Linked DNA regions of Homo sapiens: all the other regions are linked to region 4. Evidence: fine-mapped expression QTL. A gene starts in region 4. Each other region holds a variant in brackets. All regions are shown on one strand. Distances are from middle to middle.

Region 1 (4,305 bases), 120 kb after region 4:
AACTATGTTTGGTGTAATCCAAATTTTATAAATAAATACATGGTTGACAATAAACCTCTGACAGACACACACAGACTGACAAGGAATAGACCAAAATGATAGCAGTGCTTAACAACTCTGGATGGTAAAATTATGCCTGGTTTTTATTTTTATTTTTTATACTTCTCTACTTTTTGACAGTTAGTGTATTTTTTTTAGAATGGTATTTTAAAATGTCACTTTCCTGTTTGAGGGTGGGGAAGGTGGGAGAGTTGCCAGATAAAATACAATGATGCCCTGTTAAAACTGAGTTTCAGATAAACAGTTTTTTTTTAGTATAAGTATTCTCCCAATATCACATAGGACACATTTAAATTAAAAACTATTCATTGTTTATCTAAATTCAGATTAACTAGGTGTCCTGTCTTTTGTTTGTTTGTTTTTGTTTTTCTTTGAGACAGAGTCTTGCTCTGTCGGCCAGGCTGGAGTGCAGTGGCACGATCTCTGCTCACTGCAACCTCCGCCTGCTAGGCTCAAGCAATTCTCCTGCCTCAGCCTCCCAAGTAGCTGGGATTACAGGCGTGTGCCACCATGCCTGGCTAATTTTTGTATTTTTAGTAGAGATGGGGTTTCACCATGTTGACCAGGCTGGTCTGGAACTCCTGACCTCAGGTAATCCGCCCGCGTCAGCCTTCCAAAGTGCTGGGATTACAGGTGTGACCCACCGCACCCGGCCAGTGTCCTGTGTTTTTATTTGCTAAGTCTGGCAAACCGAGACAGAGGGAGAATTCGTCAGAATAAGCTGGGGAACTTTTCAAACCTGTCTTGTGTTCCCCACACCCAACCAGATTCTGATGTGTCTATCCACCCACCTGCCATCACTCAGACTTTGATATCTTCTCCCAGGGGTATCCTAGAAGCTGGGGGCTGAGGGTGGCATTGAAGTGGGGGCTGTGCAGTGAAGCACTCTGGGGTTGAGGAGGCGCCAAGAGTATTTCAGTCACATCTCTCCTGTTTTCCCTGGTAGGACTTAATGCATTTGACACTGCGAGAACAACTCTTTGGGAAGCTGCAGGACGCTCCTGACAATGTTCTGGTTGGTCTGTTTTCATAATTTTTGTCCCCAAGACCACTGGTGGCCTGTCACACTCTGGAAAGGCTATGGTGCAGAAATGGGCTAGCTGGCTGGTGAGGAAGCAGAGCTCTAGGCTGCTGGAGGCCTCTGGCCTTGAAGACCCAACTCTGGATCTCTAAATTTGCAACAGAGCCTGGGGTTAGACAGAGGGAGAGCTGTCTCCCCAGAGCACAAGTGTCTGGCAAAGTCAGCAGCCACTAAAGGCCAGGAAGCTGATTGGACTGTCCCAGCTTATGTAAAACTCTCTCCTCCAGCCTCACCACCTTGACCATGGCAGAATGCATTTAGGCCAGAGGACAAATGCGTCCAGAGAGAACAATCTTCTCTCAGGAAGGAAGTATCTAGAACCAATGGCCTGTGGCCGAGTACTGACTTGACACCCTTAGGGGGCTCTGAAGAATTGACAGCATTTTCCTTTTGGGGGACCATAGCGAAAGACCTGAAATAACCCCTCATGGCCACACCTCACAAAATAATACTGCAAGCGCAAATAGCTAAACATTCACCAGGATTTGTAAACATGGACTTCAAAAAGGTGATAATTAACAAGGTGTAGGGCAAGGGGTAATAGAGGAGAAACAGCAGGCTTTGAACAAAGCCCTGAATCCTCTAGGCCTCAATTTTATCACCTGCAAAATGGGTGGGTTAGACAAGGTGACATGAAAATTACCTTCTGATTTCAAAGTTCCAAAATGTTAATTTGGGGGATTAATTGTGGGGCGAGGGAGGCATGTTCAGTCTTTATAAAGCTGAATGATGACTCAGATAAACCTAGTGTCATTTACTAAACCTTGCTGTATGGGAGGATAGGAATTGCTATTTCTCAGGTATTTACTTGGTGCCAACCATTGCACATGTTTGATCTCATTTCTATGCTTCAGAACAACTCTTGGAGGTCACTATCATTATCTTCATTTTCTATCCAGGGAAATGGAGCCACAGAGAGGTTCAGTGATTTTCTTATAGCCACATAGCTCACAAGTGTAGAGCCAGGATTTGAATCAAGCTTGTCTTCTGCTGAACTTGAGGCCTCGCC[C/G]ACCACACCATGTAGACTTCCCGTAGCCACCTGTGTTGCTGACCTGAAACCCAAGTAACCTGTATTCTTGAGCTCTCACCAGCACCAGGTGAGGTACAGAGATGGGGACAAGGGGCAGCACACCCCTCTCTCACGAGGATTAATCTACAAACTGTGAATACGGAATAGCCTACAACCAGCAACTGTGTACTGGGGACAAATGCCAGAGGGTATCTTCAAAGGCCCCTGTGTTCCAGAATTCTCCTCATACTGATTGTCTGATCTCTGAAATGTCTTGAGCACCATCTAGTGCTTTTCATTACTTATCCTGACCTTCCCCCACCGTCTCTTACCAAGTGAAGAAAAGTAGAAACCATGCCTTTCGCCACTAACTGGTTTAATCATTTCCATGCATAGGCCTTGACTGGGCAAGACAGGGGACATATGGGTGTCAGTTTTACCTGAATAAAGGCACTAGGAGAAAAAAAAAAGGAGAGGTTGGGAAAGGAGGCATCAGAAAGTCTTTGACTTCAGAGTAAATACTCAAGCAAGTTTCCTGAATATGATGATCAGTCAAGTGAATTATTTGGTGACTGTGGACCTTGGCCATTTTCAAGCCTCTTAGGGATAATCACAAGAAAAATAATAAGTAAAAATATTGGAGCAACCAATAGAAAAGAGTTTTCTTGGGCAGAAATAGAGAATTTCATTTATTTGTATGAGTAGCTACCATTTCAACGGTGTTTGCCATTCCACTTGGAGGAAACAAATCCTTCTGGAGCACACTGAGGGACCCTCTTGGCTATGAAAATGTAAGACTAGATGGCATTCACTGCCGGCCGGGCGTGGTGGCTCATGCCTGTAATCCCAGCACTTTGGGAGGCTGAGGCAGGTGGATCACTTGAGGTTAGGAGTTCAAGACCAGCCTGGCCAACATGGTGAAACCCCATCTCTACTAAAAATACAAAAATTATCTGGGCATGGTGGCACATGCCTGTAATCCCAGCAACTCGGGAGGCTGAGGCAGGAGAATCACTTGAACCCAGGAGGCGGAGGTTGCAGTGAGCTGAGATAGCATCACTGCACTCCAGCCTGGACAACAGAGCGAGACTCCATCTCAAATACATACATACATACATCCATACAATAGAAGGCATTCACTGCCTTGACCTCATTAGATGGTTTCTTGAGTTGAGTTCCCCAAGAGCAGACCCCGAGATGAGGATCATGAGAAGCGATTGATTAGGGAAGTGCTTCCAAGGGAGTTCAGTGAGCAGGTGAAGAAAGCAGAACAAGGAAAGGAAAGAAACTGAACAAGGAGATGAAGTTGCTTCACCGCCATTCCCACAGAGAAACTTTGGAGCGCTAGTTACACCTCACAGTTGTCCAACCGGAGGTAAGGGAGCTAGCTGGGTTTTCTACGTTGGTGAAGGACCACATTTGCTGGGGGATGCTGGAAGTGAAGTCTCAGTCACTGACATATCTGAGCTTGAATATATGACAGTAGAAACCTCCATGCAAATGCAAGCAAAGTGGCTCCAGCTTCATGGGACACCACTGAAGACCCACAGGTGCCTTAACAATGTTACCTCTCTCTATACCCCTGGGCATATAGGACTAGTTTCTGAACAACCAGTGGGTAAATCAAATAGATCTAGTGTGGGAACCCTCCCATTTTTGAAGGCCTGATGAACTGAGGTGGTCCTGAGTGAGTCCTACTTACAAGAAAGGAAGGTCAAGTGAGAAGGAATTCACCATTAACTTAGGGGAATTGGAGTTTGAAGATGCGCCTATTAATTCATCTACCTAGCATGGTGGGTTCACTTTGGGACACTGGCTGAATGTATGAGGATGGATTATAACCTCAGGAGCCCAAGGTTGGAGCATCATAGACAAGCATGACACTAAGCTAACAAGGCCATCCTTCCTCAAAAATCTACTGCAGTCTGAACTGTGTGTGGCATTATGGAAGTAGTGGGCAAGGATGCATCTGGCTGGGAAGGCCATGTCTTTTCCATGGTGACATAGTCTAATGTAGTCATTGCAATAACAGAAACAACTAGGGATAAAAAGGGAAATCTGTTAGTGGACTGGTCAGATTTTGCAATTCCTCCCAGAGGGATGTCTGAAAACTCCACCGACTAGACTAAGTGCTCTGGTTCTAGGACAGTGTAGC
Region 2 (4,305 bases), 39 kb before region 4:
TAGCTTCCTTTTCCACTTGCCCCTCCAAATCCAATCTCCACACACCCCATTTTGTGCCCCTAGGAGGCTGACCTATATGGATACCACGAGTGGGCTTCCTTACCCTTTAGCTCCAGTTGGATGTGGTCAGTGAAGAGAACCAGTGGGAGCTAAAAGGAGAGAGGAGGAAGAGGTTGGAGTGTTTATTCCCCCAGCTCTTGTATTAGTCCATTTTCATGCTGCCGATAAAGACATGTCTGCGACTGCCTAATTTATAAAGAAAAAGAGGTTTAACGGATTCACAGTTCCACGTGGCTGGGGAGGCCTCACAATCATGGCAGAAGGCTAAAGGCACTTCTTACATGGCAGCAGCAAGAGAGAATGAGAACCAAGCAAAAGGGGTTTCCCCTAATAAAACCATTAGATCTCATGAGACTTACAAGAACAGTATGGGAGAAACTACCACGTGATTCAATTATCTCCTACTGGGTCCCTCCCACTGGGAGCTACCTGTGGGAATTATGGGAGCTACAGCTCAAGAGGAGATCTGGATGGGGATACAACCACACCATATCAGCTCCCCACTGCAGGGTTGCTGTAAACTGGCTTTGTCTGGCTTCCAGTCAGGCAGCTCGCTTCACACTATTCTCTGTCTCCAGGTTCTCACAACTGCCCCTTTTCTTCCGTCTGTGGGCCTCAGGTAGTCATTGTGGCCAGCTGTACTGAGCTTGAGTTTTCACTATATTCTATCCATGTCTTTTTTATAAAAAGTCCCTTTTCAAAACACTCTTAAATTAATTCATTGCAATGTGCCATCTGTTTCTTTCTGGGAACTGAAGAACTTCTTATGAAGTGTTTCTTTTTTGGCAGATACTGCTAGGTATACCATTTCATCAAATCTTTACAATCCTGTCTATAGTTTGCCTAGTAAGGCTGAAAAATAGAGAGGCTGAGTGAATCATAACCAAGGTGTTGACTAGGTTCTTTTATTTTCCTAAACTGGACACATATAGAGATAGGCTGGACCTTATACAAAACAATACAAGCAGGATTTATCATGGTGTACCCTTCCATCTTGCTCTCCATCCCAGCTTTTCTCTCTGTGTCTCTTGCTTGCAATATCCTGTTGCTACCCCTTGGAGTTCAAGGATCCCTGTTGTGGTGTCTCTGGTCTGTCATCCCAGCAGTGCTCCTTGCTGTGGTTATCTTCCCTGTGCTACAAGCTCTCAGAACACTGTCCTCCCTTCTCTTCAGTGATGCCAAGTTACCCAGATAATAATACTGAGCTCTGCAGCACTTGCTGATAATTATTCATTGTTACCTCTCCAAGGGTAGCAAGAACTCTAATTGACCAGTTACCTTAATTTAAACAAAGGACTTAACCTGTACTGGTAGTTTTAGAGACTGCTGTGGTGACTAAAGAGACATTTTGGTGGTTATATCGTCATTGACTGCAGACCCACTTGGTATAAGGTGGTCTTGTGCAAGACACAAGAAAAATAATTCATATTTAGTTCTACGAAAAATTCTATGGCAATTCTCCATCAAAGTATTCTGATTTGATTCCCAATATTGTTTTCCCTAATGTATCTTTTAAAATTCTTAGTTATATATTCCACACAAGGAGAAGAATTCTCCAGGAGATATGTGGAATTAGTAGAAGTAAAAAAAAAAATGACTTTCGGTGGTGGAACGAGACTCCTTGATACCGTTCATCTGTTTAGGAAAAGTCCAGCCAAGTCCATTTTATCGGTATCAAAGACAACATATAACTTAGCCTCCTAAACACTTTTAAATTATCTTTCCACATAATAGCACATTTTTTTAAAAGAGTAAGCTGTGTCCAAAAGTGTGTTCAATATATTTCTCCAGACAACAAACATTCTAGAATTTTAACTTATTTGTTTCTGGTATAACTGGAGGCAAGAACAAAAATTCAAATGATTCTAGTTGCATAACAAAGTCTACATACCAGGAACTGTAAGAGTCATTCCCAAAAGCAGCTTTAAACAATGCTTGAGTGAGTTAGCACTTTCTTACTAGAAAAGCCTTGTTTATATTGAAGGATACTGATGGCAAATAATTCTGCCAAAAACATTCTATAGCACAGGTGAAAGTCTTGCCTGAAGGATAGCACTCAAGAGACCCCTGGCATTTGGTTCAGCATGGTACATTTAATCATAATATAAAATTTGCAAGAAAGTGTGGACCCTTGCAATATTCTCTTCCTATGACAGTGGAGAGAATTCTATTACTCTTATCAATTTTTCTTGACTTACGCAGTAAGAGGCAGATTCTAAAGATTATAATAACTTTGATAGTTTTAAAACATGGCTGCAAATTCTGTGACATTCTTCCCATTGAGAGGTGTGGTCTCCATTCCTCCCTCTTGAACCTTGTCAAGCTTGTGAAATCTTAGGCCAGTAGAGTATGGCAGAAGGAATGCTAAGTGATTTCCAGAGCTGGGGCATAAAGGGCCATACAGCTTCTGCCCCATTTGCTGGAAAATTATTCTTGGAGACTTC[G/A]GCCTGAGTCTGTCATGCTGGAAAGAACTGGGGTAGGCACTCCTGTTGCCAGTCTCGACTGAGTCCAGGCTTCCAGTCATCCATCCATCCCTAATGATAGGGACAAGAGGCACGGAAATTCTGGGCAGAAGAGGATGGGTCCCCAGCGAGGGCCCTACCCTCAAGCCTGGAACCACAGCCCAAGGTAAGAACATACATCCCTGTTTTCCCACTCAAATGTTGACATTTCCAAAACCACCCATGGCTCACCCCACCCCTCATTGTGTGTCCATAAAAATCCTAGGCTCTGCCAGCAGAGAGAGAAGAGGAAAAACAGTTGGACATCAGAGACTATGTTTGAACGTTGGAGAGAAGCATTTGACTTCAGAGGGACAGCTTGACGGGGTAGCTTCAGAGAGGAGTCCAACCTAGACAACTGGACTCCAGGGGAAGATCACCTTCCTGCTCCATCACCTATTCAGCTCCCCTTCCCACTGAGAGCCACTTTCACCAGCAATAAAATCCCCCACCTTTACCATCTTCAACTCACTTATGTGAGCTAATTCCTCCTGAATGCTAGACAAGAACTTGGGTGCCAAGAGGGTGCATGCAAAAGGTGTCACACTGACCCTACACTGAGCTGCTAACACATAAGCCGTCTGCAGACAGCAATGGTAAAGGATTGCTGACTGTAACACTTCTTTTTGGGCTTAAGGGGGAGTGCCCCCCACTAGATGCTGCTGCAGGCCCCGCATGGAGTTGTGCTCCTGCTGGTGCCCAGAAGCAGTTGCCCCGGCTCCTGCACCCACATGCTCCTTCCCGCGAGGGGTTGAGCACAGTAGGTTCCAGTGAGTGAAGTTTGCCCCTGCTGTTGCTGAAGCAGCTAGCTAGCTCCAGTGCCGGCACTCTAGTTCCTGCCCGCGAAGCAGTCAGGGTAAATTTCCTGTTTCACTGCCAAGAATACAGACATGTGAGTGAAACTCACGTGGACAATCCTAACCAGCCCATTTTCCAGCTGAATACCTTCAAGCAAACAGAAAATTCCTCTAAGGAAACGCTTTGGAAATCCTGACCCACACAATCTTGAGGTGCTATTTCAACCACAAAAGTTTTAGGAAATTTGCTTTCTAGCAATAATCAGAACAATTACTTCCTAAGTTATATAGTCATTGATCAGTACACCACTATTAGGCAGGGTAGTTCTATCTGACAGACAAGAAATGACTTACAAAGTCACGGAGTAATGTAGGGTGTTTTAGTCCATTTTGTGCTGCTATAGCAGAATATCTGAGACTGAGTAATTCATAAAGAACAGAAACTTACTATCTCATATTTCTGGATACTGGGAAGTCCAAGAGGAAGATACCAGCAATTGGTCTGGTGAGGACTTTCTTGCTACATCTTCATATGGCAGAAGACAAAAGGCAAGAGAGAGTGAACCCACTCGTGAAGCCTTTTTAATAACAGTATTAATCCATTCATGAGGATGCAGCCCTCATAACGTAAACACTTCCTGGTAACCATTACCTCCTAACACTGCTGCATTGGAGATTAAGTTTCCAATATATAAATTTTGGGAACATATTCCAACCATAGCTCAGGGGTAGAGCCTGATTCCAACTATCATTGAGAACTGTGTGTTTTTTCTTCACTATGCCATCTTTTCTTGTTGGTCATAAAATTTTCAAACAAGCATCTTAAAATAACTAAGCCCATTGGCTTTCAAACTGTGTTCTCTGGAGCTTGAGAGTTCAAAAAAAGGTCACTGAAGACTCATGCTAGGAGAGGAAGCAGTGCAGGATAGTCAACAAAGAGTAGGAGG
Region 3 (4,297 bases), 170 kb before region 4:
TCACGACAGAAGAATGATGTTGGATGTAGAGCGTGTTCAGCAAATAAAACTCATCAAACCAAATCTCACCAGGCGACCAATAAAAGAAAGATTAATACCTACATAATCAAGCCTGTGGTTTGTCTTACTTTAAAGTATGTGGATAGATTATCAGCTGTCACCCCCTAGTGGTAGAGAATATAATTATCAGGGCTGCTTGTTTCTGGTCAAAGGAAGGAAAAGAAGCCAGGAGATTTACAGAAAAGTGCATTTGCTACCAATCTCACAACCTTTAAATTGCATATACTATTCACACACACACGTACGTATATGTGTGAATTTAGAAGGAAAAAGCTTTATGAGTTACACCTTACTCTGATGATCTGGCTGTTTGTTAACTGCCTGGAAAACATAACATGAGATGTAAATAACTTGCTAAAAACTCGCTTTAAACTTTGTCTGCTTCCGTCATTACAATTCCTTATGAAATCCCTTCCTGAGAAAGAATTAAAATAGCTATTTATTCTCAAAGCCTCTTAGAGAAGAATATTGATTTCCTATTTAAAATTTGACATTTACTCTATGACGTGCGTAGAATTTCCAGAAAGCAAGGAAACCATGACGAAGTTACCCTAAAGCTTGATATAGATCAACTTTTTTAGATAAATTTCAGAAAACTACATTTTTTAAAGACAAAAAAAGTTAAATTCAGCCAAACTGCTACTTACAAATCATTAGTCGCAAAACAGCCAGTTGCTTAACTGAATTCAACCACATACATTTCCCTGCCTCCACCCAATCCTATTTTCCAAAACACCCACAGACACATATATTTGTATCTATGGGTATAGATTGTGGAAGACTTTAAAATAAACCATCCAAAATGATCTCTGATTCTGAAATCACTGGAAACAGAGAATACATTTCTCATACATACATTTAAATGTGGTATTTGACTCTCCCTCTTAGCTAGAGAGAGTTTATGTGGAATTTATAAGAAAGTTTATAGTCAGAAGTCCATCTGCTTATAGGTCTTGTTTGAAATGCTTGGTGTGTGTGTGTGCTAGCCACATTTTTTGGAGCACTCGTTGTTTACGGTGCATTGAGCTAGGCATTTAACCCTCCTAACCAACTTATGATATAAACAGTACTATCATAACCATCTTACAGATGAGCCTGCTCAGGCATATTAAATTCCTGGCACAATGTTACCAGCTACAGGGCTAGATCTTACTAGATCCCAATTGGTTGTCCTTCCATCATTAGCTTTTTCAGTTAATTGGCTCTGCTCAACAAGAAGCAGGAACTTAGTAAGTGCAATGATGTTGGTCATGAAGGGTGCTGGCAAGATTCAAAAGGCTTCAGGAAATATTCATTTCTTAGTGAATAAAAATTTCTTGGTGAAAATCTTCCTGCCTTAATGAAATAATGAACCTAATTAACAACTAAGGTCTTGTAAAGCATCAAAATTATCCTTTTTAGCATTATATTTTTATGTGTTATTACAAATCTGGATATGTTCTATAATTTTATTGTGTAACTAAATCTCAATTGTTATTTATTTTTTTGCCAGTGGCTTTTTTTTCTCCTAAATATAAAGAATGATTCCCTGTACCCTCTTTTAACTTCCCCAAAATAATCACTTAGTTTAATTAAGGGTTCTAGTTACTTTAGTACCAGTTAACCAACTTTTTACCCTATTTAATTTATATGGCTGTTGGAACTTTCCTATTTGTCTAGAAGAAAATTCCCATGGCCTGGAAAATTGCTTGCTTGCCTGGTGGGATTGCCAGTTACACGCTAATTATAGTATCTTTTATAATACATTAGATGGTGGTGGCTCCTTTATATATATATAAGTGAAACTCACAAAGA[C/T]GTTCAGACCAGTGCATCAGTAAGGCTGAATAAGAAAGAAAAGTAACAGTCTTAAAGTATTACGGTATTACAAAAAAAACCAAATACCCATGAAGTAAAAATTTTGAAGAGTCTCAGGTGTGAAATCCTACATTCCAAGCATTAAGTTAAAAGGACAAAATACCACAGAACTGTCAGAATGGGTAGCCTTCTTTTGCACCAATGCTGAAATATCATTTTTTATACAACTAGTCTTTTGCTAGATATTTCAGATAATGACATCAAATTTGAGTAGGCTGTTTATCCACTTTGCCTATGGGGAAGAGACTGGTTTTTAAAAGAAATGAGTTTGTTTTCTTGTTATGGAAGAATTTAGGCATTGCCAGAAGTCTGGATGGAAATGTAGCTGTAAATATCCATGGTAAAAATAATATGCATGGTAGCTAAAAGAATGGATGAGAATTGGGATTGATTTTTCATTTCTGATGATCAAGCCATTATAGATCTCCCTTGATTGGGAACAAGCCATTTTTCCATAGTCTTTGTCAGATGATATTAAAAGTCTATGGTATCTTGCTATTATTGGCCGAGTGTTATCCTTTAATCTCCTGAAAATGGGCTACTAACATTCTGCAGCATTTAGGGTGGAGAGCCTTGCACTATTCCAGATCTCTAACCTTTTTCATCACTTAAACCAGAGCTAGTGTTGAATACAAAAGGACTCAGATAAATATATCTCAGGCATGTGTGAGGCAAAAAATGAAACCTTCTTCTTGGGAGTATTATTCAGAAGGTTAAGTTTATCAGAAAAAAATTTACCTCCAAACGCTAGACCTGGGTGCTGGTCTTGCCATTTCCTTCGTCAGTCCTTTATCCTCCCTGGACCTCAATTATTTCACCCACCAATGCAGAGACACATGCTCATCTGTGAGTGAAGAAGATCATGTCTAAATAGTCCTTCCCAAATCTCAGCAAGTCCTATAAACTAAGATCTTTCTTAGTCTGTCATTAGCCAGTCATTCTTTAAGTTGGTTTCTCTATTTAGTTTCCAAAATACCCCTTTCCACCCTCTGAAATGGTCTTATTTATTTGTCAGATTTTATTGTCTATCTCTGCTTCTGGAATTCAAGCTCCATGCATTCAGGAACCCATCTTGTTCATTGCTGTATCCAGAGGGTCTGAAACAGTGTCTGATGCATGGGAGGATTCAAGAAGTAATGTTGAAGACATGAATAAATAAGTTTCCTCAATAAATAATACTGAATACTAAAAGAAGAAATGTATGATTGATGAGTTTTCACTCTTCTGAATGAGGTTATTCTAATGTCCCTTGTTAGCAGATGACTTTGTGAGAAGAGATTAAAACAGCTTAAGGAGGCTGCCCAGAGCTTGCACTCTGCAATGACAACACTAATTTTGTTCTGATTTCCAGTATACTTCCTTGCTTAGGGGAGAAATGTCCTATTTCACTGTCCTTCTGAGGCAGGCTTTCCTACTTCAAGTGGAGCCGGTTCCGTGCAGTCTTCCAAGTAGGTAAAGTCATTGACTGCTTTCAGTGCTTTCCCTGCTAGTCTCAGTCCCACCGACATCTAATTATATTAATATGCCAGAGAGAAAATGCAAGAAGGCTCTTCATTCTAGGATGAATGAATTGTTCAGGCCCTTCCTAAGAGGAAGTATCAATTTAGAGCAGGGACAACACACAGTCCTTGAGCACCTGAGGTTAAGTATACCCACAAACGTTTGTAAGCATTGTGATAAAGTTGCACATTAGCCCCACCAAAACCTCTCCACCCATCAGTTGATTTGTTTTTCATTTGATTGTTGTTTCTCCAATTTACAGGGAGAAAAAAAAAATAAGGTTTGCTGTGTTGAAGCACCACTGAGCAATCTTAGACCCGAAGCATATCTTACTGATTATCTAATTCAATGTTTCCCAAACTTGTCTGAACAAAAAAATCACCCAAGGTGCTGGTTAAAATATCAATTCTCAGGCCTCACCCTGCTGATTCGGATTCCGACAGGTTTGGGTGAGGCCAAGTGCATTCAGATTTTTTTAACACGTGCCCCAGGTGATCCTTATGTTCAAGCAGGTTTAGGAAACACTAACACACACATTTTCATTTACTAGCAGAAGAAACTAAGTCTGAGAAAGCCCTGAAAGTACATCTGGGTCACACAGCTCACTAAGAATCTTCAGTTCCTGGACCTGGATTCTTTCCCTTGTACCAGCCTGCCTCCACTAAATCTCCATCCCACTAAAAAACTATAAAAATACACACAAGGAAACTAAGCACCCCCAAAACGCCTTAACTTCCTCTGTATTTCCAAATGAAAATGTTAGCTGACTTATTTCAATATTTCCTTGTTGTGAAAACATTTTTTTTAACTCCAATCATAATGTGTGTTTGGCCTGGATTGGGGTCCAGGATTTAAAGGCAAGCTCTACCGATGCCATCTCAGG
Region 4 (4,279 bases):
ATATAACTTTAATTTATTCAGTTCAACCTAAACAGATTATCTACAAGATGAACAGATGAGTAAAAGAAAGCACCAAGAGAATTTTTAAGAGGACTTTTTTTTTATAAGAGAGGCTAGGAGGATATTCAAAATCACAAGTTATCTGTTCTGTGTCAAACCACATTTTTCAAAATAATGGATCTGTTGTGTAACAGAGAGCTGATTTTAAGTTCAGTGTTTTCCTTTAGCCTCTTAGTTTAAAACAAGAATACAGAAAATAAGAGAAGAAAAATATACTTTGGCATCTATTGGTATTATCTAGATTGGCTTCTGTAGTTTTTAATTTATTATAATACTATCTGCTATATTAGGGATAACTAATATACGTATATTTTTAATTAGTATTAAATATTGACCTTATAGTGAGAAGTAATATTGGTAGGACAGTAATTCCATCACTCATCCTCTAGCTGAAGCTACTACATCTGGGCAGTTCGGTGGATATCGACCTTCTGTAAGAGCCCAGGGATGATGGGTTAAGAGATGCCCAAATGTTCTCTCTCAGATATTTGAGATGGTAAAACGTAGTACTTCTCACTTTCTGGGAACTGTAAAATAAATAGATTGATAGAGAAATCCTCAAGCTAATGAAGCCACTGCATATGAACTCTTTAAATTTTGTAGTTTCCATGGATGAGTATATTTTATGTGCATTACATACACCAGAGAAAACTGGCTGATGAAATTAGCAGTAACAAGTAAGGACTTGAGGATAAATAAGGAAACATAAGTCCTACTCCAAGGTATTTTAATCATCATATAATAATTAAGTACTTAAGCAATTCCTGGGGACCTCTCCCGGTGTATAATAAAAACAGGACCACATCATAACTTCTTCTCCCAAGAGAAAGGTCTCTTGTAACAACTGTATTCTACAGATAATTACTAAATATGATCTTGCCTAATCTCTTTCTTCTAGTATCATAAATAAATGTATCTCCAGTTAAATATCTGGTTTTAACTCATCAAATACTCCTCTATCAGTGTCCAATTCTAAACTGGTTGACTCACCTCTGTTTTAATGAAGTGCTGGCTTCTACATGTATTTTGATCTGCAACTGAGAGCTGTATGTGTTGTAAGTACTATGTGTCTGATGATGGGCTCGCGGTGTGTTTTTCTTTTGAGTCAGGTACTACAGCTAGGCTCATGCAGCCTCATACTGAGTAGGAGATAATTATACCACAAAGTGGTAGCATAAGACAGAGATGTGCATTGGAGGAAAGGGCACATAATGATTCTGAAATTCAGACCTGTGTTTGTAGAAAACGAGGTGAGCTCCGTGTTGATAATTTTGAACACATATTTTATTGTTGTAAGGATATGGGTCATTCATAATGCAAGGGGACCATCATTCCCAACTGGGAAGCTTCTAGTATCACCTAGTCCAAAAGGTCTTAAAGAGGCATTTTACCTATTTGAGGAAGGGTATCCATTATATTTTTAAAGTACATTCTCAAACCAACTGCTTTTAAAAGGGTCTTGCAGTTAAAATGACCACATAATATCCACTACGGGATAAGTGCAAGATTGGTGCAACATTGGGACAACAGACCCAGACAGGGTCTGTCCCAGGCAAATGAAAAAACATGGGCACCTATTTATGGAGGAAAAATGCCCAAGGGTTTCTAGGCGATGAGGGCTGGAGGGTTGATTTGGTAGACTCTTCAAGAAGAGGCTTCCTCTTGCCTTTTCAAGGGGGAAATAAAGATAAACTAGGGACAATGAATTTTAAGGACTTTTCAAGGGTGTGATATCTTTGCTGCTTTCATTTTGATTTTTAAAAATCCCATGTTTCCCTTTATAATTAACAAAATCCATGAATTAAAATGGGTCTTTGTGCTAATCTTTAGGGCAGCAAGAAATGAGGCTCTTGAGAAATAGTACCCCATTTTGCTATCACCTTAGATGTTGGAGAGGGAAAGAGAGGGCGAGAGAGCTGAAAGAAATCCTTCGCAAGAAAACAAAGTAAGTGGACAGAGTAGTTGGCGGGGAACATCTGGGATTATAAACACTGGGGGCAAAGACAAGACCTTGTGAAATGCCTGACATAGTATCTCACGAACCTGATGAATAAAACCATGATATCTGGGTGACCCTGGTGACAACGCTGGGAAAGGTGAGAGGAAACAGAGAGCGCTGTGTTTGAGAGTAATGTTATTGGTTCTTTAGGAACGAGACCGTGGGCTCTTAGTGACGCTGTGGGTTCCTGAGTTGTCTGGGAGTACAGGGACTGCAGCCTCGAGTCTGTCCAGCTACGATCACTTTGGAAGGCCTTCGGTGGGATGCGGGCAGAAAGCTCCCAGTGCAAAGGGCGTGCCACGAAAACCACCAGCCAGAAACCTGAGCTGGGACAGGTGCGCTCCGCCGCCGAAGCTTTCCCCGCGGCCCCTCCCACTCCCGTCCCAGGCCCGCCCACATCCCTGTCCGGGACTTAAGTCCGGCACCGCCGCCCTCTCCCCCGCCCCGCCGCGCTAGAGCCTGGGGTCTCGGCAACTTCCGGCGGCGGGAGCTGCAGAGCGCAAGGCGCGCCCACTGCGCGTGCGCTTCGGCCCGGCTCCTCCTGCGCCCCCGGCCCCTGCGACTGGGACTTGGTACGGCCGGGCGGTTGGCGTCCTCTGCGGCTCCTGCCAGGGGCGGGCTTTTCAAATCTTCCCTTTGAAGGAGTGGCGACGGCCCGGACAGTTCGCGTTGGAGATGGAGGGGCCGAGCCTGAGGGGTCCTGCGCTCCGCCTGGCGGGGCTTCCCACCCAGCAGGTGAGTTGCGGGAGGGACCCTGCCGCGGAAGGTGAGGGAGCCGGGGTTCTGTTCCTCGCGCATTTGCTTTGTGGAGGAGTCGGGAAAGCCTCTCCCCCGCTCCTCTATTTCAGCGGTGGCCAGAAACAAAGGGAGGGATTAGGAGACTGCGCTCTTGGGGCTCTAAAGGGCCTGGACATCGGAACCCCCGAGTTTCTCAGGCAGCTGAGGTCCGGATTGGGAAGGCGGTGCCGGGGTCCAGGCGCGCGTTTGCGGGCGCACCTGTCCGCTGCCCTCCCCAGGCTTTGGACGCCTGTCTTTTTGCAGGTGTAGGTGATGCCGGGGAAATGGGAGCCCCTCGATTCCCAAGAAACCCAGCGAGGCCAGTGGACAGCTGGCTTATTACGGATTTAATGGGAAGCACAGTAATGGAGCGATGTCTACACACAACACAGAACTGGTTGGGGGGAGGGGGTTCGGAGCGGAGTAGAGGCAAACAGCAACCTCTGCACTTTAGAAAAAGTTGAAGGTTTGATACTGGGTTCTTTCTCAAATCATTTGAAAGGAAAGAGGGAGTACACGTGACATTGGATAGAAGTTTGATGTTTGCTTTTGAGCCATGTAAAATGCGTTAGAAACCTTTTTATTTTACTTTTTACTAAACCAACATTATTTCTTGGCAGCATCAGTTATTAAAATGTTACCACTTTTCACTCTTAACCATAACTTTAGGGTCTTAAAAGAAAACTCTGATGTCTTTAAGCTGGACCTTCACTTCTATTTTAATCTCTACCTTCTTTTACCTACTTCAGAAATAGGTTAAGCCATATGAAATTGCCAGTTTTGTAGGTCAAAATTGGTAGAATATTTGCAATTTCATTCATATGGAGGCACCTGATATCTTTGTTTAAAAATCTGGGATTTCCTTAGCAGACACAAAATTATTAGTTTTCAATAATACTGTGAAAAATAAAGCAAGACATTAAGATTCATTATGCAAAAGAAGTCCAGTGTCTTTATCAGTAATACTTATGCTGTTTTATGCCAGCATTTTCAAAAATTTCAAAGATTTTGATGTACTTTTTTTCAGTCCTGTCCTGTTATGTACTTTGGCTGTCCTGATTGCTAACAAAATCTTGATTTATAGTGAATTGCCATTCTATTGATGTTCTTGCACCTATCATATAGGTGTAGGTGTAGCTGTCCAGGTGTATTTATTGAGCTGCAGGCTGCAAGAATAGGAATGGTACAGAAGCGACAAGAGGATAAAATCATGAAGTTTAGTTGCATGGAATGAAAATAAATGTTTAAATATACATAAAGCCTGGGTTATTTACATGTGGGAAGATACAATACTTAATTTCTTAGGCAGGACAAAATCAAAATGATTGAAATGTGGAATTACTTCCTCAGTTTGGATTTGAAGAAAAAACACAAAATAGTAGTAGGTTGCAACCTAACAGGAATATTGAGAGTCAGATAATTTTATACTTGACTAACACTGAA
Region 5 (4,305 bases), 60 kb after region 4:
ACACGCCTGTAGTCCCAGTTACTCGGGAGGCTAAGTAAGGCAGGATAATTGCTTGAACTTGGGAGGTGGAGGTTGCAGTGAGCCGAGATTGTGCCACTGCACTCCAGCCTGGGTGACAGAGTGAGACTCCATCTCAAGAAAAAAGAATAGTGTTTCTCTTTTAGTTTTTAGTATATTTCTAATGGTCTCTAAGATCTTTAAGCTTAATAATGTTAAACATTAAATACAAATCAGAGTTTTTTGTCTTTTGATTGTCTTTCTTCTTTTCTCATGAAAATAATTTTCCTTAATGCTACTTAAAAATTATTTGAAAACATAAATTTCACAATTGCTAAGGTATATAAATAATAGTTCTGTTATTTAGATCACAGGATCTGTTCTCAAGCTATAATTCTTGTCCTTCTAAATGGCATTTCTTGTAAGGCTAAGTTAGTTCATTAATTTTCATAGGGAGCCATCTGTGGAAATAGTCACATTAAGGGAAGAAAAGCCTAAGAGCTATTCCCCTCCCATTGTCAATCCAAATTTGAAAGGGTGATTTACTTCAAAGTGATTGCTTCAAATTCAGAAAACTTCACAAGAATGTTCTTGAGCAAGACATTCTCAATAACAGGTACTTAACTGAATTTCCTACACATTATAGAAAGCATTTTGTTAACTAAAGCTTTATCCATTGTCAATATGGTGAGGGGTGTGACGGTTAAAAAAAAGTGTGAGTCTTTGAGATCAAGCCTTTTCTTGTTTTAAATATTATATACATCATTCATTTTAATAAAATCTGTACTAAACAAGTCAATAACACTATTTAGTGTAGTAGACTTTGGATAAATTGTTTTGAAAATACTTTTAACTATTATATTTATCATAGAACCTAGAAAGCAAAATTATTATGAAGCACATGGGATTTTAATCCAATTATATTAGTTTCCTTAATATCTAATCATATCAACTATTCAGATTTTTAAAAGTAAATATAGCAAAAATAATTTTTCAAACATTTTCCTGTAGGAGTTTACATCTGATTTAATTAATATAAATTTAAAATAATTATATTAAACTGATACTAATCATACCTCATGGTTGGTTTAACTTACAGCTATGCATTACATATTTCAAACATTCCTTGTCGTATACATGAAGATATCCTTTTTTGTCATTAGAGTATATATAAAGTCTAAAGCTTGTTTTTAGCACCAACATTTTGTCTTCATTGCTGATTAACAGGACTTCAGACGAAGCACTTTTCAAATAACTCATTTATCTTTACAGCATGTTTGTAAGGAAGATGTGAGATATCTGCATTACAGCCAAGAAAGAGGCATTAATAATAGACTGACTTTGGTTTTTGTGTTTGTATTTTATTTTTTAATTATTTTCTTTGGAAAAAAATTCAAGGTAATTTATACATAGAATAGTATAAATGAACCCATGTGTACTCTCACACATTGCCCCCACATTAGATATATTTTGAAGCAAATCCTAGAGACCATATCATTTTACTTGTAAATATTCCAATTGTCACACTTAAGAAAATTTATGGTTTTATATATAAGTTGTCATATGTAGATATAATTATATGTAGTTAATATATCGTTAAAAATCCAGGCAGTCTTTAAGATCCCTAGTCTCAATTTTTGTAAGTTTTTGAGTTAGGATCCAAATAAGGGCCACATATTATGGTTGATTGATTAGGTCTTTTAAGTCTCTTTAGAAAAAGGAATGCTCATACATTGTTGGTGGGGGTGTAAATTAGTTCAGCCATTGTGAAAGACAGTGTGTTGATTCCTCAAAGACCTAAAGACAGATACCATTCGACCCAGCAATCCCATTACTGGGTATATACCCAAAAGAATATAAATCATTCTATTATAAAGACACATGCACACATATTTTCATTGCAGCACCATTCACAGTAGCAAAGACATGGAATCAACCTAAATGCCCATCAGTGGTGGGCTGGATCAAGAAAATGTGGTACACATACACCATGGAATGCTCTGCAGCCATAAAAATGAACTAGATCATGTCCTTTGCAAGGACATAGATGGAGCTGGAGGACATTATCCTTAGCAAACTAACACAGGAACAGAAAACCAAATACCACATTTTCTCACTTATAAGTGAGAGCTAAATGATGAGAACACATGGACATATAGAGGGTAACAACACACTCTGAGGCCTATCGGAGAGTGTGGAGGGTGGGAAGAGGGAGATCAGGAAAAATAACTAATAGTTACTAGGCTTAATACCTGGGTGATTAA[G/A]TAATCTTTACAGTAGACCCCCATGACACAAGTTTACCTATGTAACAAACCTGCACTTGTACCCCTGAACTTAAAAGTTTAACAATAATAATAATAATAATGAATATGTTGGCTTATGCTCACTCACACCTCTAACTCCCCACTTCAAACACACACACACACACACCATAGACAATTTATTTGCTGAAGAAATTGATCTTTTATCCTGCAGGGTTTTTCCATAGTCTGGATTTTTCTAGTTGCATACCTGGGTTGCCATTTTTCTTTTCTTCTTCTTTTTTTTTGAGATGGAGTTTCGCTCGTGTTGCCCAGGCTGGAGAGCAGTGGAGCAATCTCGGCTTATTGCAACCTCTGCCTCCCAAGTTTAAGCGATTCTCCTGCCTCAGCCTCCCGGGTAGCTGGGATTACAGGCATGCGCCACCACGCCCAGCTAATTTTGTATTTTTAGTAGAGATGGGTTTCTCCGCGTTGGTTAGGCTGGTCTCGAACTCCCGACCTCAAGTGATCCACCTGCCTCTTCCTCCCAAAGTGCTGGGATTACTGGCATGAGCCACCGCACCCAGCCTGCCTTTTTTCTTATATTTTTGGATCATATTCAGATTTGTTGGTTGGTTAGTAAGAATACATTTTAGGAAGGGTCATATACTTTCATCAAGAAGCATATCATATATCTAGGTCTTCCACTCATCTTAACAACCACTGATGAGCATTGTTTTAGATCCTTTATTTCATTAAGGATTACAAACTGGTAGTATTTTTACATTCGTTATAGCTGGAATGCCTCTACTTCATCAGCTATTTGGTTACCCTGAAGTACAATTCTTATAGGGAAGACAGGAAAAGTGCTTGGGGTTTTTTTTGTTTTTTTGTTTGTTTGTTTGCTTGTTTGTTTTTTCCCATTTATATGTCAGTTACCAAAACAATGAGATGGTTTCCTACCATCTTTCACAGGTGACCAATGAGTTCATTTTTAAATATCGTTTTGAATTTTTGGATTTAAATACATGTCATGTGTCTGTCCATTGCCATTGCTATTCTAGTCAATGTTCTAATCAATGTCCAATGTTTGACTAGTAGAAGCCCCTTCGAGTTGACTCTTGAATCCTTTTGACATAACCCTAGGAATCTTAGATTTCTGATAGGACAAGATGTTCCAGAATCATCTTATACATTTCCTGGCCCAGGCTGAGAGTCAGCCATTTATTTGAAAAGCTCTGATGTTTTTAGTAAAGAGTATTTAGAGACCATAATCTGGGTGCATTTTTTATGGTCGTATAGTCAAAAGTAACATATATAATTTATAAATCTAGTCCTGATCTAGTAATTTTCCACGTATATGGAAATGAAGAGGAGGAAGTACAGTTTTAATTCAAAATAATAATTTTTAAAAACCTAAATGAAACTTTCCTGTGACTTTAGAGTTTATATTTTATTACAAAATTGACTTCCCAGTTTATGTTTTTATTGACTTCACTTGGCATTCTCTAGGTAACAACACCATCTCATGGAGTGAAAAATTGCAGACTGACGAAAAGCAAATCCAGCTACAGATTAAAATTACACAGTGAATAATCTCAAATCTATTTACAAATCAAGAAAAGTTGACTATAAAACCTCCTAGGTAATTGAAGTTTTGAGATTAGCAAAAACAATACAGGAAACGCTGGGCTTAATAGAATAATTCTCACAGAACATGTTTCCTCATAAAGAATTGGATTGGAGATTATTTCTAGGATCTGGGTCTATCAATACAAAACTTTTTAATCATTATTTGAGTTGTTCTTTTCCTGTTTCATTTGTTTATTCTTTAAATATTTTTTAGCCATTTACTGAGTACTAGGCAATATTTTAGGTGGCAGAAATATGGGGGGGAGGCAGGGAATTACCAAGTTCCTTGTTTTCATACCCTAAGAGGAGTCACTTATATAAACACATAAGCCCATAAATAACAGTCCTAAAATTCACCTTAGTGTTTTCTAATCACTTCCTTTTTTGAGAATTGAAGACGTGAGAACTATTGTTGATATTTTTCCACAGTGAAAAA
Region 6 (4,253 bases), 74 kb after region 4:
AAAAGAAGATGAGAGATTCAAAAATATCAGAAAAGTTGGCCATGGTAAATAATTTTCAGAATTCTTTTTTAAAATTTTAATTAGATTTCCTTTTCCTAGTAAGAGTTGATGTCTGCTAGTGGTATTTTTCATTAAATGTCATATTCTTACAACAGTGACATTGGAATCATTTCCATAGGAGGTAATTTCCATAGCAACTAATCATAGTGACCCAAACAGGATTATAAAGTCAAGTGAGGAATAAATAGCAGAAAAATACCTTAAAGGAACAAAAAATCCATTTTTTATAATAATGCTTTTTGTAAACAAGAGCAGAACAGTTTTAAAAATCTAATTAGAATTTCCAAATAAAACAGTTTCCATAAGGTGTCAGCAACAGCACTAAAAATCTCAAATCACACTGAACCCTAAATGTCATTGCAAGAAATAAAAATTTAAGAATTAAATTGCTGCCCTGTGTATAATCTCTTGAGATCTTTTTAAAGCTAGCAAGAACTCTATTTGGATCAGAACTACATTATTACAAAACAAAATGAACACTTGACCAAAAAACCACATTAATTTAAATGGAGCCTTTCATTATTTTCAGATAGCGGGGTCTTTTCCATTTATAGAGAATGATGTAACTGCCAGGACACTTTTGTGTTTGCCCAGGACTCCTAGTAAGAATTGAATCTTGAGGGAGTAATGATAACAAAAGGTTTCTTGTGACTGGTAACATCAGGACAGACAGAGTTTTTGGTGAGAAGAAAGTACTATATGCCTGCTTGATAGCATGTAGAGATCATCACATGTATGGAAACCTTAAAAAGTAAACTTATTTTTTCTAACTAGAAGGCTCTCATAAGTTTCTGTTATGATTGCCATTTCAATAAATGACATTAAAAATCTAAAGGATATTATTGTTTGAATTTTTGGGTTATTTTTTAAAACTTCATTGCTGTTTTTGACAGCATTTGTGACTGTCATTGCCACTAAATTATTGAGCTAGAAGATGCTGCAGGGAAAATTGTTTTGAAGCTGGCATCTAAGCATTCTTTTTTTTTTCCTAGTTGATGCCTTCCTTTATTACAAATCAGTATTAAAACTTCCAGATTATATTCTTGTCATTTTTCCTCATGCAGATAACAGCAGGAAGGACTTAAGGTGTATAAGAAAAAGAAAGTATTCATACAGAAATTACCTAGCAGTTGTGCCCTCAGAGTAGAACTTTGAAACAGGACTGAAGCCCTTTTTACCTAGAACCATTTAAAAGCCTGAGCAAGGACCACCACCCCCTCCCCACCAAATTATTCGGTCTCTTTCTGGGGGGCCCAGCTTACTGTATGTTACAAGTCTTTGAAATGGGTCTGGTGTCTTCAGCTCCTGAAATGCTAATTTACCCCTTACCTAAGGAGTGTAGTTATAATACAGAGTTGGTTTCCTTCCTTCCTTCCTTCCTTCCTTCCTTCCTTCCTTCCTTCCTTCCTTCCTTCCTTCCTTCCTTCATTCCCTCTGTCCGTCTCTCCTTCCCTCCTTCCCTCCTTCCTTCCTTTTTGTCTTTGTTTCTTTCTCTGGCCCCCTGTCCTCTCTCTCTGTCTCATCCCCTTTTCCCACTTTCCTTCTGTCTCTCCTTCCTCCCTTCCTTTACAGTTTAAAAAAAAAATCTAAAAATAGTTAAGCACTGTGTCAAAGAGTGTTTCAAAAGAATTGTTTGTTTTCTCATTTCTTAAACCAGAAGTTTATGACAAATAAATATGCCATGTAATATGAAAGCTGCTTCAGCTTTTTATGAGCTTTCACATTCCTTGTTTGTCCTTTTAATTTGTTTCTTGATATATGAAGACT[A/G]TAAACTTGAAACAAAGAGTTAGCTGTCAGCTCTTGATAATATAATTGGGGAAACAGAATAGATATTTTATGATATGATAATTCTGATGATCTAAAGATAATGTCTTAGACAATTACCTTTACATTTCAAGCTCTGGGATATAAATTACGTAGTCAGCATTAAGATAGTATTATTTTTAATTGCTACTAAGTGGTAACTTTTGTATTTTAATATCTTGCAAGGGCAAAGAAGGCATTTTTAAAATTCTAAATGCACACCTCCTAAGGTAAATAGTCTTTCAAAAATATCAGGCGTGCCAACTCTTGCTGAGTTTTGTTAAATCCTCCTTAACTGTCTGCAGTGCCCCCTGACTTCTTTTAAATGGATGTGAATATATGTGGAAAACTAAATCCATTTATTATAAATGCCTTATCTTTACCCTTTGGGATCTTACTAAATGCATTTTACCTGCTACTATTTATTAAAAATGGAAGCTGTCTTGAATTAGAGATACCTCACGTAAGGTAGGTTAAGCAGTCAAGTATTTCTTTAGGCTTATGTTCAGCACCTCAGCCCCCTACTGAGAAGTTAATTAATTCAGTCCAAAATGAAATTATAGGGCAGTTTGGTGCAATTTATGTTAAATGCCATTTGAATGTAATCACCTGTGTTACCACGAATGAGGCACAACTATACTACATGGACAGAGTACTGCATTGCACCATGAGCAAGAACTGCTCTGCAAGAAAAATATCTGTCCCTGTGGTCTGAATTTATCAAAACTCATTTTCTTGTTAAAGAGTGAATTATTGAATAGTAATTAAACTTTAACTGATGACCATTTATATTCTAGTAGCCATCTTCACTGTTAGTCTTAAATTATAATGTAAAGTTGACATTTTCCCCTTACATTTCAAAGGCATCACTATTTTTAAATGTTTACATATGTTTACATGTTTGTGTGCAACTGCTTCATTGCTATTAATAGTTAAATGAAATCTGCATATTCTGGATCATAGATGTTCTTAGTTAACTCTGGGAAAGATGTTACCTTTGGGTTTTTAAAAGACAAGTCATCATTTGAAAATATATTAGGGTGTGTTGATTTTCTGACATGCTTGTGTAATTGGCTTTGTTTATAATTTTTATTTTTTAATATGGGTCAGACTTTTGGATTAAAAAGTATTATATCATGGACATACATTTTTTAAAGTACCAAAGGTATTTGGTAAGCGAGCCCAAGTCATGTAATTGAAACTTCTGTACATTAAAAGAACTGATTCATGAAGACGTTTTCTAACTTTTTCTCTTTAAGTGCTCCTCTAGACTAGACTGATTGAAGTAGACAGTGTGGTGGAATCAGTTTAATCAGAAAAAGACATACCAAGTAGCTGGTGCTAATTATTATAAGACTAACATTCTGATAAGCCATGGTATAATTAACATTATTAAAATGTTTACATATAATCCTTCTTAAAGTATACTCTTTTAAAAATCCATTGACATAACCTTACTTTTAGTTTAGTGATCCAGAATTTCCCCAGAGCTTAAGCCACTGCAGTAAATTAGGTACGTAGGATATTCAGTCGCTACTAGCCACAAGGAGTCTCCTTATTTTAATGTACCTCCCTCAGTACTTTATTCCTGCAGAGCGCCTCAGAGTGGGGGAGAGAAATGAGCAATCCTGGCTCAGTTGGATTATTTCAGCATTTTATTTCTAAATCTGTAGTGTGATCAGAAATATTTAAAATTAAAAAAATACTTTACAGAGAGAGGCCTACTAATCAATGTGCTTAGAGAAACAAACTACCTTTACATTCAATTAACAACAAAAAAAGTTACAGAAATTTTAACAAACATTTTTCTTTATCTGAGTATGGGAGAAAATACTAATGCTGACACGTTTAATAATTAGAAAAGATCATTCCAGATCTTATGGAAAATTGTGTTTTAAATTCCAGCAGTTTGCTCTTGAGACATGGTAATCTCTTAATGTAACTACTAAAGGAGAGGTAGATTGAAAAGATCTTGTATATACATAATTATGTCAGATGGTTCAAGATATCAAAATAAATTGTTTTGTTGAAAATGAATACTTTTTGGTGTCTTGCTTAAAAATATTTTTATATTTTGTTTATCTACTCAAAATTATGAATGGATGCATTTTTGTAGAACTTAATCTTAATAAACATTTAACTGAATTAGTTGTAGCAATTTTATAATTTTATATTAACAGGGAGAATAGTAGTAAGAGGAATTATTCACTTACCTCAAATATTAAAATGTGTGTTTTATGTATATAAAATATAATACTATAGATATAACATACATACATACATACTCATACACATAGTGTGTTAGATTCTTCAGGTATTTTCAGTTAGTTTTAAAAAATTCTTTTAAAATATGCTTCCAATGGAGCAGAATAAAAATTTCAAATCCCCTT
Region 7 (4,262 bases), 42 kb after region 4:
TTACTGTTTTATCCTTTCCTAGCATCTCTCTTCTTTTGTCATACTTGCCTTGGAAAAACTCCAACCTTGGTTAACTCCTACTTTTAGTTCCTTTGCACTCGTACTCATGAGGAATAGATGAAGAAGCAAGAGAAAAACAGTTATACTTCCTGGTCTCACTTGAGATACATAATCCCTAACCTTAAGTGGGTTCCCAGTATGACCGAGCAATTCTACTGTTTCTATAGTCTTCTACTTTACCTCTCTTCAAGGTAAGTATTTCACATGTTCTCCTCTCTAACTGCCAATATCCTCTCTCTGCCCCTCATTCATAGCTGATAACTTTGTTTCATATGTCATTGGTATTACTGAAGTAATTGGAAGAGAAAAATATCCTCCATCCACCAAATCTGCCAGCCTACCCACATCTGCCTCAGTGTTTGCTGTTTCCTTTCTTGTGAACTACCTTCACCTCATCTAAGGCCTGTCTACTTGTGCGCTAGAGCCCACTTCTCAGTTACTCACAGTAGGCTCCTGCATGTTTCCTCCCCACCTATCCTACATCACCAACTTTAGTACGGCATCATTTCTGTATACTTATAAACATGCTGAAATACCTTCAATTTCATAACTATCCTTCATGGAAAATAATTTTTTATTTCATAACTATCCTTCATGGAAAATAATTTTTTATATTCCTATCTACTTCCTCTTCTGCCATTCTCTATTGAACCATTTCAGTTGGCTTACCTCATGTTACCTCCATCCCATCCTACAGAAACTAGTCTCGTCAAGGTCAACAGTGATCTAATGTTGCCACATTTGATTGTCAGTTATTGGAGTTCCTCTTCCTGGACCTTTTGGTATTAACACAATTGATCACTCTCCTTGAAATACTATTTTTATATGGCGTCTAGAATACCACTTTCTTGATTTTTCTTCCACCTCAGTAACCATTTATTCATTGCTTGTCTCCTTTGTTCATTGCTCTTCATTTAATGGAGTGCTTGTGTCCCAGTATTTGGTCCTTGGACTTCACCTAACTAACTTTCATTAAATTTCATGTATATACTGATAACTCCCAAATTTATATCTCCAATACCTATTTCTCTTCTAACTCCAGACTCATATATCCAGTTGCCTGGATGCATCTAGATACTGAAAACAATCTCAAATAATGCACCTAGATATCAAAAACAGTCTTAAACTTATTTGCCCCAAACTGAATTCTTACCTCCTTTATCTGTTTCTCAGTCAGCCTCATTTCAGTTCATAACAATTCCATTTTTCTAGTTGCTTGGACCAGAAGCCTTGGAGATGTCTTTAATTCTCTCCCTGCTTTCACATCCTGTCTTTGCACTGAAACTTAGAGAATATATCAGGAATCTCAACCATTTCTCACCACCCCACCACCACCGTTCTATTCCAGGCCTGCAACAGCTCTTGCCTGGTCAGTTGCAGTAGCCTTTTAGTTGGTGTCTTCATTTTTCACTCCTGGCCTCTGTAGTCTGTTCTCCACACAGCAGCCAGAGG[A/G]ATCATTTAATTTTGATACAAGTCAGATCATAGCACATGACTCTGCTCGGAACCTACCATTTGCTGCACATCTCACTCCAAATCCAGTGTTCCTTACCGTGCCCCACCAGGACTGTGGTATTGTCTGTCTGTCTGCCCCCTACTTACCTTTTGGACATCTCAAATCACTCTGCCTCCCTCACTATACTCCAGTCACAGTGACCTCCTTGTTTGTCAAACACACCTAGCATGTACTCACCTTAGCCTTTATATGTATTGTCCTCTGCCTGAAATACTCTTCCTTCTGTTCTTCTTGTGGCTCCTTTCTTCCTTTCAGGTCTTCACTCAAGTGTTACTTTTGCAGATAGGCCTTCTTCTCCTTTGGCCATCTGAAATAGCACTCTCCCCTGACCTTAATCCCTTCACCATGCTTTACTTAGCTTCATGGGCTTGATACAATTATATATTTTTCTATCTATTTTTCTTCCTGTATAAGAGAGGAAAAATAGATAAATATATAAATGTATGTTTACATATTTATACATTCTCCTCCCCTATTTCGTTGATTGTTGTCGTTTTAACACCTGGAACAGTGCCTGGCAAATGAAGGCACCCCACTTATTGTCGATAATCTTTTCTTGAAAATAACATATTCTGCCCTAAAGTGCTCACAGTGAGTCTACTTCCCATTATTTTAAGTGGGAAACGTTATAATGTGTTATCAATTTAAAACCCCCTTCTAGTTATTTTTTTGAGACAGTCTCATTCTGTCACTCAGGCTGGAGTGCAGTGGCACGATCTTGGCTCACTGCAGCCTCCGCCTCCCGGGTTCAAGCAATTCTCCTGCCTCACCCTCCCAAAGTTCTGGCATTATAGGCGTGAGCCACCATGCCCAGCCTACTTTGATTCTTTCTCCACAGTTTTCTTTAATACTTCAACTTTTTGGGGATTCATTATGTGAACAATAGGGAAAAATAAGAGCTTATTGTGAAAGGCACTGTAGAAACTTGTTCAGAATAAATGAATAATAGCAGAGAATGGCCACTTGTCCCTCTCTTAGTTCTAGCAGCAGTTAAGATTTGTTGATATATAGTGAACTTTTGAAAAGCCTAAGTGTGAGTCTGACATTATACCAATTCAGAATGTAACTCGAAAATGTACTCATGCATTGTTTTGTTTAAAATGTTATGTTGAAATTTGGAGACAGAAACATAAATTTTCCTATATAAACATTGACCAGAAACACTGGGTATAGAGAGTTATCTTTGGTCTGTAATGACTATATAGTAAAAGCCAAGAGGCATTCTCCAAGGGAGTAGTATTCTATGAAGTATGCTATTATTTATTGAAGTGCATGCATACATTGCATACTTACTAAGTGTATGCATATGTATTTTTGTAATAGAGACTTTATTAAGGATTTAGTAAGAAACAAAGGAGGTTTATGAAACATAACACCTAGCATAATTAATATAAATTCCCATCAGACATCACTGTCTTCTATATCTCTCTTTGTCTCTCTCTTTTAATATACTCGTTGATGTTTTGAGATTTTACTGATTTGGAAAAAAAATAAAATCAAGAAAATCATGAAAAAAATTAGGATTGCTAGCATAGAAAATACAGTTGTTGCCGGGCGCAGTGGCTCACACCTGTAATCCCAGCACTTTGGGAGGCCAAGGCAGGTGGATCATGAGGTCAGGAGATCGAGACCATTCCTGGCTAACACGGTGAAACCCCGTCTCTACTAAAAATACGAAAAATAAGCTGGGCATGGTGGCGGGCGCCTGTAGTCCCAGCTACTCGGGAGGCTGAGGGAGGAGAATGGCATGAACCCGGAAGGCGGAGCTTGCAGTGAGTCGAGATTGTGCCACTGCACTCCAGCCTGGGTGACAGAGTGAGACTCCGTCTCAAAAAAAAAAAAAAAGAAAAGAAAATACAGTTGTTACTGAACATAAATTCACTTTTTATCACCACGAAGTGCCAGGATATGAAATTCATCACGAGAAATTCTAGGTATTTTGGTAAGAGTGCTATTTTAACGTAAGTACCACAAAGGGAACTATAATGAAAAAAATGGAATGAGTGTAATGAAGTCATCCATGTTCTCACACTATAGATAAAACCCTCAAATCTCTGATGTAGATAACCAGAAGAAGGAGATTCATTCTGTGAAAAATAAAAAAAGTTGGATGCTAAAGTGGTAAGGACAGATTTGAATCAGTAATGTGCTATTACAATAAGAAGAGTCACACATGAATTGCACTCAACTTTGATTTGTGTAGAGACAACTGGTCATTTTAAAGGAAAGTGAGGAAACTGGGAGAGGTTGAGTGAGGCTCAGAGTTAGCTAAGTGAAAAGTTCCAGATAGTGGGAAGGGGGGATTGGTCCATGTGGAACCCACCTGGGTGCTCTAGCTGGTATTTATCAAAATTAGTCTCCTACCTTCTCACAGAGACTGAAAGACTGAAAGGCCCTGTTTTCAGCTCTTGGTTGGAACAAACAATAAATTATTTTGTCAGCCTCGAGTTTTCTCAAGCAGGCACTTTAAGAAGACATCTTAGGGATGCAGGTTAGAGCTGCTAGAAACAATGCTAGTGTTTGTTCAGGTCCTTAGAGGCCAAGGTTGAGGCCTAGTTGAGTAAAGGACTCAGAGGATCATGGCTAGAGTTTGGTCAAAAAGACAGCCTTTGTCCCTGGGAAATTAATATAAATCAGACCCTATCATTCCACTTTTTATCAACTTTCCTATTACACTTAGAATTAAATC

Direction of the effects. Positions count from the first base shown, and alleles are read on the strand shown. Sizes are in standard deviations (SD) of each study's normalised expression. Not every link is listed here.
With allele T in place of C in region 3, the expression in sun-exposed skin of the gene that starts at base 2,501 in region 4 is lower (moderate effect, 0.45 SD a copy in GTEx).
For the expression in whole blood of the gene that starts at base 2,501 in region 4, allele A in region 5 goes with a lower level than allele G (moderate effect, 0.41 SD a copy in GTEx).

Evidence for each region. PIP is the estimated chance that this variant, and not a neighbour inherited with it, causes the effect.
Region 1: its variant is fine-mapped to the expression of RTKN2 in whole blood (INTERVAL, PIP above 0.99).
Region 2: its variant is fine-mapped to the expression of RTKN2 in lung (TOPMed, PIP above 0.99).
Region 3: its variant is fine-mapped to the expression of RTKN2 in sun-exposed skin (GTEx, PIP 0.97). The same link has a PIP of 0.9 or more in unexposed skin.
Region 5: its variant is fine-mapped to the expression of RTKN2 in whole blood (TOPMed, PIP above 0.99).
Region 6: its variant is fine-mapped to the expression of RTKN2 in whole blood (INTERVAL, PIP above 0.99).
Region 7: its variant is fine-mapped to the expression of RTKN2 in whole blood (INTERVAL, PIP 0.98).

What each region holds. Positions count from the first base shown.
Region 1 is chr10:62,145,768-62,150,072 of GRCh38, reverse strand. No RefSeq gene overlaps it. Among named protein-coding and RNA genes, the nearest start is that of LINC02621, 110 kb to the left of the region's middle. The variant C/G (reference allele first, on the strand shown) is at 2,151.
Region 2 is chr10:62,305,949-62,310,253 of GRCh38, reverse strand. No RefSeq gene overlaps it. Among named protein-coding and RNA genes, the nearest start is that of RTKN2, 39 kb to the right of the region's middle. The variant G/A (reference allele first, on the strand shown) is at 2,505.
Region 3 is chr10:62,433,672-62,437,968 of GRCh38, reverse strand. It overlaps a transcript of ZNF365 not described here. Among named protein-coding and RNA genes, the nearest start is that of ZNF365, 61 kb to the right of the region's middle. The variant C/T (reference allele first, on the strand shown) is at 1,855.
Region 4 is chr10:62,267,066-62,271,344 of GRCh38, reverse strand. RTKN2 (rhotekin 2) reads left to right here and starts at 2,501. Exons shown (of 12, transcript NM_145307.4): 1 at 2,501-2,794. The coding sequence starts at 2,735. The region is part of intron 1 of LINC02621 (long intergenic non-protein coding RNA 2621); the gene reads right to left. RefSeq lists a silencer at 2,420-2,749.
Region 5 is chr10:62,207,509-62,211,813 of GRCh38, reverse strand. All of the region lies in intron 9 of RTKN2 (rhotekin 2), which reads left to right. Among named protein-coding and RNA genes, the nearest start is that of LINC02621, 50 kb to the left of the region's middle. The variant G/A (reference allele first, on the strand shown) is at 2,262.
Region 6 is chr10:62,192,841-62,197,093 of GRCh38, reverse strand. RTKN2 (rhotekin 2) reads left to right here. Exons shown (of 12, transcript NM_145307.4): 12 at 1-4,008. Among named protein-coding and RNA genes, the nearest start is that of LINC02621, 64 kb to the left of the region's middle. The variant A/G (reference allele first, on the strand shown) is at 1,828.
Region 7 is chr10:62,224,941-62,229,202 of GRCh38, reverse strand. The region is part of intron 6 of RTKN2 (rhotekin 2); the gene reads left to right. Among named protein-coding and RNA genes, the nearest start is that of LINC02621, 32 kb to the left of the region's middle. The variant A/G (reference allele first, on the strand shown) is at 1,513.